Homo sapiens: one gene and its partners. The protein of the gene in region 1 purifies or fractionates together with the protein of each later gene. This does not show direct contact. Each region holds a gene or a part of one and is shown in the gene's direction. Other genes may lie near its edges. The genes, in order: GALK2, MVD and LTA4H.

What was found.
Region 2: the proteins of GALK2 (region 1) and MVD fractionate together in Homo sapiens (co-fractionation; one large-scale study listed by BioGRID). This does not show direct contact.
Region 3: the proteins of GALK2 (region 1) and LTA4H fractionate together in Homo sapiens (co-fractionation; one large-scale study listed by BioGRID). This does not show direct contact.

The regions. Positions count from the first base shown.
Region 1 is NC_000015.10:49,295,695-49,299,349, forward strand, and holds part of GALK2 (N-acetylgalactosamine kinase), read left to right. Parts: intron 1-3,655. UniProt on the Homo sapiens protein: Acts on GalNAc. Also acts as a galactokinase when galactose is present at high concentrations. May be involved in a salvage pathway for the reutilization of free GalNAc derived from the degradation of complex carbohydrates.
Region 2 is NC_000016.10:88,656,444-88,660,098, reverse strand, and holds part of MVD (diphosphomevalonate decarboxylase), read left to right. Parts: intron 1-1,378; coding exon 1,379-1,449; intron 1,450-2,069; coding exon 2,070-2,184; intron 2,185-2,516; coding exon 2,517-2,663; intron 2,664-2,851; coding exon of another isoform or gene 2,852-2,953; intron 2,954-3,655. UniProt on the Homo sapiens protein: Catalyzes the ATP dependent decarboxylation of (R)-5-diphosphomevalonate to form isopentenyl diphosphate (IPP).
Region 3 is NC_000012.12:96,002,421-96,004,742, reverse strand, and holds part of LTA4H (leukotriene A-4 hydrolase), read left to right. Parts: intron 1-761; coding exon of another isoform or gene 762-788; exon of another isoform or gene 789-822; coding exon 823-905; exon of another isoform or gene 906-1,136; intron 1,137-1,617; exon of another isoform or gene 1,618-1,678; coding exon 1,679-1,783; intron 1,784-2,322. UniProt on the Homo sapiens protein: Bifunctional zinc metalloenzyme that comprises both epoxide hydrolase (EH) and aminopeptidase activities. Acts as an epoxide hydrolase to catalyze the conversion of LTA4 to the pro-inflammatory mediator leukotriene B4 (LTB4).

The DNA.
Region 1 (3,655 bases):
TACTAATTGGAAGCTTGGTCTTCCCTCTGGGCTTTTAATCCTAAATACCACTGTGCTTTTATAAATGAATTTTCTCCCTTTTCTGAAATGCAGTTTCTACCTGTCTTAAAAGCTTAATATAATTCTTATCTTCTGCTTATGCTTCTTAATCCACAACCTATTCTCTTGCTCTGTATCCATCTTCCTTTCTTTCTGCATCTGCCTGTCTTCCTTTCTTTTAGATTTTTTTTGAATAAGTAAATTTCCCAGAATGCTTTGGAAAATACAAAGAGCAATTTGCTTATCAAACAACATGTATTGCTCTCTCTCTGCCTCTCTATGTATATATTCATAAGCTTTTCCTCCTGAAGAATAATGACTTCATGGTTTTTGTAAAAATGAGGCATGCTTCATCTTATTTCTTTTTTTCCAGAACTTTTATTTATTTTCTTTTTCAACTTAATTTTAGGTTCAGGGCATACACACTAGGTTTCTTACATGTGTAAATTGCATGTTTCTGGGGTTTGGTGTACACATGATTTTATCACCCAGGTAGTGAGCATAGTATCCAAAGGGTAGTGTTTTGACTCTCACTCTCCTACCACTGGCCATCCTCAAGTAGGCCCTGGTGTGTACTTTTCCTTTCTTTGTCACCATATGTACTCAGTGTTTACCTCCCACTTACAATTGAGAACATATGGTATTTTGTTTTCTGTTCCTGCATTAATTTGTTTAGGATAATGTCCCTCAGCTGCATCCATGTTGCTACACAGGACATTATTTCATTCCTTTTTATGGCAGCATAGTATTCCACAGTGTATTTGCACCACGTTTTCTTTATCCAGTCAACTGTTGGGCATCTAGTTTGATTCCATATCTTTGCTATTGTGAATAGTGCTGCAGTGAATATATAAGTGCATGTGTCTTTTTCTTTTTTTTTTTTTAAGACAGAGTTTCACTCTGTAGCCTAGGCTGGAGTGCAGTGATGCGATCTTGGCTCACTGAAACCTCTGCCTCCCTGGTTCAAGAGATTCTCCTGCCACAGCCTCCCGAGTAGCTGGGGTTATAGGCACCTGCCACTACGCCCAGCTAATTTTTTGTATTTTTAGTAGAGACAGGGTTTCACCATGTTGGCCAGGCTGGTCTCGAACTCCTGACCTCGTGATTCACCCGCCTTGGCCTCTCAAAGTGTTGGGATTACAGGCGTGAGCCACTGCACCTGTCCACATGTGTCTTTTTGGTAGAATGATTTATATTCATTTGGGTATATACCCAGTAATGGGATTGCTGAGTTGAATGGTAGTTCTGTTTTAAGTTCTTTGAGAAATCTCCAAACTGTTTTCCACAATGGCTGAATTAATTTACGTTCTCACTAGCAGTGTATAAACATTCCCTTTTCTTGGCAAACTTGGCAACATCTGTTGTTTTATGACTTTTTAGTAATAGCCATTCTGACTGGTGTGAGATGATATCTCATTATGGTTTTAATATGCATTTCTGTAATGATTAGATATTGAGCATTTTTTATATGCTTGTTGGCCATGTGTATGTCTTTTTTTGAGAAGTATCTGTCCATGTCCTTTGCCCATTTTTTAATGGAGTTATTTGTTTCTTGCTTGTTGATTTGTTTACCTTTTTCATAGATTCTGGATATTAGACATTTGTAAGATGCATAGTTTGCAAAAATTTTATCCTATCTCTGTAGGTTGTCTGTTTACTCTGTTGACAGTTTCTTTTGCTGTACAGAAGCTCTTTAGTTTATGTCTCACTTGTCAATTTTTGTTTTTGTTGCAATTGCTTTTAGAGATTTCATCATGAAATCTTTGTCAAGTTCTATGTTCAGAACTGCATATACTGGCTGTTTTTTCTAGAATTTTTATAGTTTTAAGTCACACATTTAAGTTTTTAATCTACCTTGAGTTGATTTTTGTATATGGTAAAAGGAAGGGGTCCAGTTTCCATTTTCTGTGTATGAATAGCCACCTATCCCAGTACCATTTATTGAATAGGGAGTCATTTCTCCATTGGTTATTTTTGTTGACTTCGTCAAAGATCAGATGGCTGTAGGTGTATGGATTTATTTCTGAGTTTTCTATTCTGTTGCATCAGTCTATGTGTCTGTTGTTTTATGCTGTTTTGGTTACTGTAGCCTTGTAGTATAGTTTAAAGTTGGGTGGTATAATGGCTCCAGCTCTGTTCTTTTTCCTTAGGATTGCTTTGGCTATTTGGGCCCATTTTTTATTTGAATTTTTGAATTTTTTTTTTTCTAATTCTGTGAGAAATGACATTGGTAGTTTGATAGGAAAAGCATTGAATCTGTAAATTGCCTTGGGCAGTATGGCCATTTTGATAATATTGATTCTTCAAACCCATGAGCATGGAAAGTTTTCCCATTTGTTTGTGTTGTCTCTGATTTCTTTCAGCCATGTTTTGTAATTCTTATTGTAGAGATCTTTCACCTCCTTGGTTAACTATATTCCTAAGTATTTCATTCTTTTTGTGGCTATTGTGAATGGTATTGTGTTTTTGATTTGGCTCTTAGCTTGGACATTACTGGTGTATAAAAATACTACTGATTTTTGTACATGGATTTTGTATCCTGAAACTTTACTGAAGTTATTTGTCAGTTCCACGAGCCTTTGGGCAGAGACTATGGGGTTTTCTAGGTATAGTATCATATTGTCAGTGTAGAGAGATAGTTTGACTTCCTATTTTCCTACTTGGATGCATTTTATTTCTTTCTCTTGCCTGATTGCTGTGGCTAGGACCTCCAATACTATGTTGAATAGGTGAGAATGGGAATCCTTGTTTTGTTCTGGTTCTCAGGGGAATGCCTCTAGCTTTTGCCTGTTTAGTATGATGTTGACTGTGGGTTTGTTATAGATGGCTCTTATTATTTTGAGGTATGTTCCTTTGATGCCCAGTTTGTTGGTAGTTTTTAACATAAGGAGTTCTTGAATTTTATTGAAAGTCTTTATTTCTATTGAGATGATCATATGGTTTTTGTTTAATTCTGTTTATGTTGTGAATCACACCTATTGATTTGCCTATGTTGAACTAACCTTTGCATCCAAGGAATGAAGGCTGCTTGATAGTGGTGGACTAGCTTTGTGATGTACTGCTGGATTCAATTTCCTAGTTTTTGCTGAATAGTTTTGCATCTATATTCATCAGGGATATTGGCCTGAAGTTTTCTTTTTTTGTTGTGTCTTTGCCAGGTTTTGGTATTGGAATCATGCTGGCCTTATAGAATGAGTTAGGCAGGTGTCCCTCTTCTTCAATTTTTGGAATAATTCCAGTAGGATTGCTAACAGGTCTTCTTTATATGTTTGGTAGAATTTGGCTGTGAATCCATCTGCTCCAGGGCTTTTTCTGGTTGGTAGATTTTTTATTATTGATTCAATTTTAGAACTTTTTATTTGTCTGTTCAGGAATTCAGTTTCTTCCTGGTTCAGTTCCTGGAGTTTATTCATTTCTTTTAGGTTTTCTAGTTTGAGTGCACAGAGGTGTCCACAATAGTGTCTGAGGGTTTTTTGTATTTCTCTGAGGTCAGTGGTGATATCACCTTTGTCATTTCTGATTATGTTTATGTGGATCTTCTCCCTTTTTTCTTTATTAACTAGGCAGCAGTCTGTCAATCTTATTTATTCATTCAAAGAACTAGTTTTGGTTTCGT
Region 2 (3,655 bases), on another chromosome or scaffold:
AATGACTCCTGGGGAGGTGAAAGTCCCCACTCCTTCAGGGAGGGAAAGGGGGCGGGGCACTGTTCCAGCCTGGAGTGTGGGAGGGATCTGTTTCTTTTTTTCTTTTCTTTTTTTTTTTTTTTGAGAAAGGGTCTCCCTCTGTTGCCAGGCTGGAGTAAGGCTGGAGTGCAGTGGTGCCATCTCGGCTCAGTGCAACCTCCGCCTCCCAGGTTCAAGCGATTTTCCCGCCTCAGCCTCCTGAGTAGCTGGGATAACAGGCGTGCGTCACTACAGCCTGGCTAATTTTTGTATTTTTAGTAGAGATGGGGTTTCACCATATTGGTCAGGTTGGTCTCAAACTCCCGACCTCAGGTGATCTGCCCACCTCGACCTCCCAAAGTGCTGGGATTACAGGCGTGAGCCACCGCGCCCGGCCAGGAGTCTGTTTCTGTGTTGCTAGGCTGCCCTTCCTGGTCCTGCTAGGGAGGGCTGGCTTTGGTTGGCAGTTCCAGCTTCTGCAGGGCTAGGTCTAGGGCAAGCAGAAAAGAAAGCCCCGGGCTCCCCCTGCACTGTCCCACAGCCGCCCTCTGTCACCCGTGAGAGTCTCACCTGTGATGTCCAGGGTCTCAGTTGTCCCCAGTGGGAGGAAGCGGGAGAAGTCCCCTGGCCCACCTTCCTGAAAGCAGAGGTTCGCCCGGCCTGTCAGGGCAGCGGCGTCCGCCTGCAAGGGGGGCCGCTCAGTGCTGTGCGTGAAAGAGCCTCGCGAGCTGCAGGGCGTGGTTCTCTGCCAGGTGTCCGCGTTTATCACCCCTGGAACTGTCCGCCATCCTCAGAGACCTCCCCTCGCACAAAACCGAGCAGATGGTGTGCTTAGCGAAGCCGCCGTGGAATAAGACTTCAGCTGAAGCACCACGCAGCGCTCCCAGGGCAAACGTTTCCTTTCGGGCTTTCTGGAAGTTTGATTTCACGTGCTGTCCCATGGCCGTGCTGGGCAGAAAGGGGTTTATCCTGGATGTTCCTGGGGCATATGAGCAGTGAGATGTGAGGAGTTCTCAGAGCTGGGCTCCTTTTGTTTGGGAAGGTGGAGGGGAGGCAGGCCGCGGTGGGAGCGATCCGCACCTGGGCACTCACGGATGCTGGAGTAGAAGCGATGAAGGAATGGGGAGCGGGGACGGAGGTTGGCTGGCCTCCAGCTCTGCTCTGGGAGCCTGAGCTCAGTGGGGTGGGAGCAGTTCTTGCAGGCCGGGGTCTGGCAGGAGGAGGGGCACACAGGTTGTGCGGTGAGAGACGGGACTGAGGCGGATGGGGGCCGTGGGTGGGGGGTGGGGGCACCTGTGGGGAACACTGGGGGAGGGTGGGCCGGGAAGCCCACCGGCCTGGCCCTGGCTGTTCATTACAGGGGGCAAGCGCGATGAAGAGCTGGTTCTGCCCATCAACTCCTCCCTGAGCGTCACTCTGCACCAGGACCAGGTATGTGTGGACTGACGACTAAACACCACAGTGCCATTTCCAGAACATTTGTAGAACAGTTGGTACCCGTTGGGTATGGTGGCTCACATCTGCAATCCCAGCACTTGGGGAGAGTCTCTTGAGCCCAGGCATTGGAGACCACAGTGAACCATGATCGCACCACTGCACTCCAGCCTGGGTGACAGAGTGAGACCCTGTCTCTGAAACAAAAAAAAAATTGGTACTTTTTTACCTAAAGGCTAGGATGAGATGGCCTAGCGACGACTCCCAGCCAGCACGCAGTGTCTGTTCCATCTCCCAGTATTAGGAGAGCTGAGCACAGCACACATGTGCCCCCAGGTCTCGTCACACATGCGCACACCGTGCCCCAGGGGCTCCCCTGGGAGTCCCCGTCTCTTTATTCAGGATAAGGCCTGGTTGCTCCACAAGGTGTGGCCCACGCTTTCATCCCCCACGGGCTTCCCCACTGCCCAGCTGAGACTGGCCTTTCCCCCCCTGCCCTCAGCAGGGCTGACCTTGCTCGAGTGGGCAGCCATGAGGCTCTCTCAGTAGAAAGGGGTACCTGGCTGGCATCGGTCCTCAATGCTGGCCTCTGAGGTGGCCCTGGGTTTCCTTTTCAGTTAAAAACCACCACAACAGCCGTCATCAGCAAGGACTTCACCGAGGACCGGATTTGGCTGAATGGCCGGGAGGAGGATGTGGGGCAGCCGCGGCTGCAGGCCTGCCTGCGGGAGAGTGAGCTGGGGTCCCCATAAGCCCATCCCTCCCTGTTGTCAGCAGGGTCCGAGCATCCAGAAAGTGCTTCTGCCTCTGTGCCCCTCCTGAGGCAGCAGGCGGGGTGGCTGGGAACCAGACATGCCCGCTGGGCCGCCAGCTCCAGGGCAGTGGCCCACCTCAATGACCAGCTGGGCTTGGGTCAGTCTGGGGTTTTCCCGGGTAAGAAACTCTCCACGAGGAGTCTGGCAGGCAGAGGCCTGGTGTTCAGCTGTGACCCCGGGCAGGTGGGCAGGAGCAGGGCGGGCAGGGTGCTGACGGCTGGGCCACACGCTGTCTCATTGTCTCTGCAGTCCGCTGCCTGGCCCGGAAGCGGAGGAACTCACGGGATGGGGACCCGCTGCCCTCCAGCCTCAGCTGCAAGGTGCACGTGGCATCGGTGAACAACTTCCCCACGGCTGCGGGCCTGGCCTCCTCAGCGGCGGGCTATGCCTGCCTAGGTGGGTGCCCACAGAGACCCGCAGGGGTTCTGGGCTGTGGGCGCAGGAGCCACTTCATGCTCTTCCCGGGTCAGGGAGCCCACTGCTGGGCGTGGCTAAAAGAGCATCCCCTCACCCCAGGCCTCCCTGGCCTCTCTGGAGTTGTTCAGTCTCTTCCCAGAGCACATCTGAACATTTTCATCTTCCAGTTGCAGCTGGCGTGGGGCTCTCGCCTGTAATCCCAGTACTTAAGAGGCTGATGGGGGAGAAGCACTGTAGGCCAGGAGTTCAAGACCAGCCTGGGCAACATAGTGAGACCCCCCCCCATCTCTACAAAAAATAAAAAAATCTTCCCGTTGCTGTATGTGGAGCCCCTCTAGATTGTCAGTGATAGAAACCACTTCAAACTGGCTCAGCCCTAAAATAGCGATGATTTTGTGGCTCACGTAACTGAGGATTCCAATGGGCACAGCTGGTTGCAGGCCCCGCTGGACCCAGCTCTCTGCTGGCCCCAGGCCACTTGCTGGCAGCTTCCCACCCACTGTCAGAGCCTGTCCCCCCGGTGGTGGTCTCACACCATCTTCACCCCTCAACTCCAGGGGTGACGCTTCCTGGCCCACCTGGGCTCCTGCGCCTTCCCTGAACCACCCTCGGTGACCAGGGTGGGTGACCAGACCTGGAGGTGGGGTTGCCCTGCTGGAGCCCTGTGGGAGGAGGGGAGAAGGTGGCTCCCGTGCTGGGTGGGCAGGGGGCGCGTCTTGTGGAGTCCAGCTCTGTCCTGGCATCGGTCCCTGCCCCACACAGCCTTAAAATTCCTTCCCACCCTCAAAGCCCAGCTTGGGTGTCCTCGGGGGCCTTTCTCCCGCCTTCCATGGGGCTTCCTGCTCTGCCGCAGGTACCTTTTGTTGCCCTTGTCGCGGGCCGCAAGCTCTGCAGGCCGTGAACAGAGAGTGTCCGAGAGTGGAACTAGCGGAGGTGGGGGACAGACGGCTGGGCCGGTGAATGCTGGCCTC
Region 3 (2,322 bases), on another chromosome or scaffold:
TATTAGCGACAGGATTAGTAGTTCATGAAAGCAGAGATTGGTTAGTGAGTGTGGAGTCCTGTAAGGTAAGGAGGTCGTGGTTGGAGGGGAGAGTTATCATCTACCTAGAGGCACCTCTGCCTCTCACAGGCACTACAAACTCTCTGCTTGTCCAAACTGAACTCATCTTTTTTCTTTCCTTCACCCAAACTTGTCCTCCCTTTTAGGGTGAGTTAAGGTAGGGATAGGATGCTTATAAACCCCCTGAAATTGTATACAGAAGTTTGTATTCATGTAGTAAGTGTATTTTCCCCCTAGGGAAAGAGTCCACATTATTCATCAGATTCCCAAAGAGATCTATAATACAAACATTTAAGAACTGCTATTATGTAGGTATGCAGATAATTTAACAGGGATTTCAGAGGAAATATACAAAGATAAAGCTAGGGGGAATCAGGCAAAAATTAAGGAACTATGATTTCATCTGGAGAATGGAATTGCATTTAAGATATATAAGTTATAGAGAATAACTAGAAAAACTCTAGGAAAAGTCTGAAAGATAATATTTATACATGCTAAAAAGTCTAAGAAGAGCAATTCTCATTTAATGCTGAATACTTCACAAAGTAAATTATCCCTGTGCTCCCAGTAGAATATCCTCATCTGGAATAAGTTTGCACAGAATTTACTTAGTGTGCAATTTGTTTCTTTTATTTTTATCTGACTTATTTCTATATTATAAAATATTTAGGATTTTAATCTGGCTATGCATTTCTCTCCAGCTCCTTTCTTCCAAGGAATCCTGTTGAAATGATACGGTATACTTCTTTATTTTGCTCTTAGGCACCTCTTCCATTGGGGCACATAAAGCGAATGCAAGAGGTGTACAACTTCAATGCCATTAACAATTCTGAAATACGATTCAGGTACATCATTTTAACTTGTCTCTGTGGAAGAAAGCAGAAAACTAAACTCCTTTGAAAGATGGAGAAAGGGAATGCAGAGTATGAGACATACTTGAGTCTTGAGAATTCCTTGTCAAACTGACTGCTTCTATATAAATACTTATAGTGGTATTTAAGGAATAGTTGCAATATGTAATCTGGTAGTATTAATCTTTTTGTTAGACTTTGCTCTAAACCTCTCTTGCCTTAAAAGAAAAAAAAAAAATTAGAATGAAGGATTCCGTGGTAAATAGGCTTTCTCCACAACCAACTAAATCTACTTTGAAATGGGAATAGTTAGAAATATTTTATTCTATTATATGTTAATCTTTCTTAATTCAAATTTGTAATGTGAGGCTTAAACCAAAGTTTAATTCCTTCAGAAATTGCATGTATAAGGTATGTGAGCACCTACCTGATCTTTCTTAATTCAAATTTGTAATGTGAGGCTTAAACCAAAGTTTAATTCCTTCAGAAATTGGATTTATAAGGTATGTGAGCACCTACCTGATCCAGACCTTTAAAAATATATGATCTTTTTCAAGAACCAGCTCCTCTTCTTTCTCTTCACCAATTATTAAATTGTATATATAAGGATTTGAGAGTCTCAGAATCAAGACATACCATAAAGTGGTGTACAGTATAACTATAGTGGGGTTATTCATATCACTACAGAAGTAATATTAAGATATACCTGTCATATCCTGCCCCTTCCTCATTTTCTACTCCATGCTCCCCCCAAATCCTCCTTTTAGATGGCTGCGGCTCTGCATTCAATCCAAGTGGGAGGACGCAATTCCTTTGGCGCTAAAGATGGCAACTGAACAAGGAAGAATGAAGTTTACCCGGCCCTTATTCAAGTAAGAACCCACTCAGACCGTACTTTGAATTCATCTAAGAAACAGGAAGAAAACTGTCAAATATTTAAACGTAATCTATATGACAATATTTTTTAATTTGTTAAAGTTTATCAGTATAATTTTGGAATAGGGATTCACACTTATAAATATTTAAAATGTGAAATAATTTCATTCCTCTTTTTAGAAGCATTATATATGGATTACTATTTTGGATCAAATAGAGTTAGATACTGATAAAATAGAAATAAATCAAAGATAGCCTTATATACACAAAGATTTTTAAAGGTAACTAGAAGATAATTGGTGGGTAGGTATAGACAAGAAAGAGAGTCTGAAGTTAAATGTAAGGAGAAATAAGCAGATAAAGCTAACTCTTTTGTGTTCAAATGTTGCATAGAGGTCAAGGGTAGGTTGCTTGACATAATAAAGGAATGCTTAGTGAGAGGGGGATAAGTTGTATCTTGACAGCAAGATACAAGAATATCTCAGTCAAGGTCTTTATGAATTTTGTCCAAATTCTGGAAAAAAAAATCATGCCA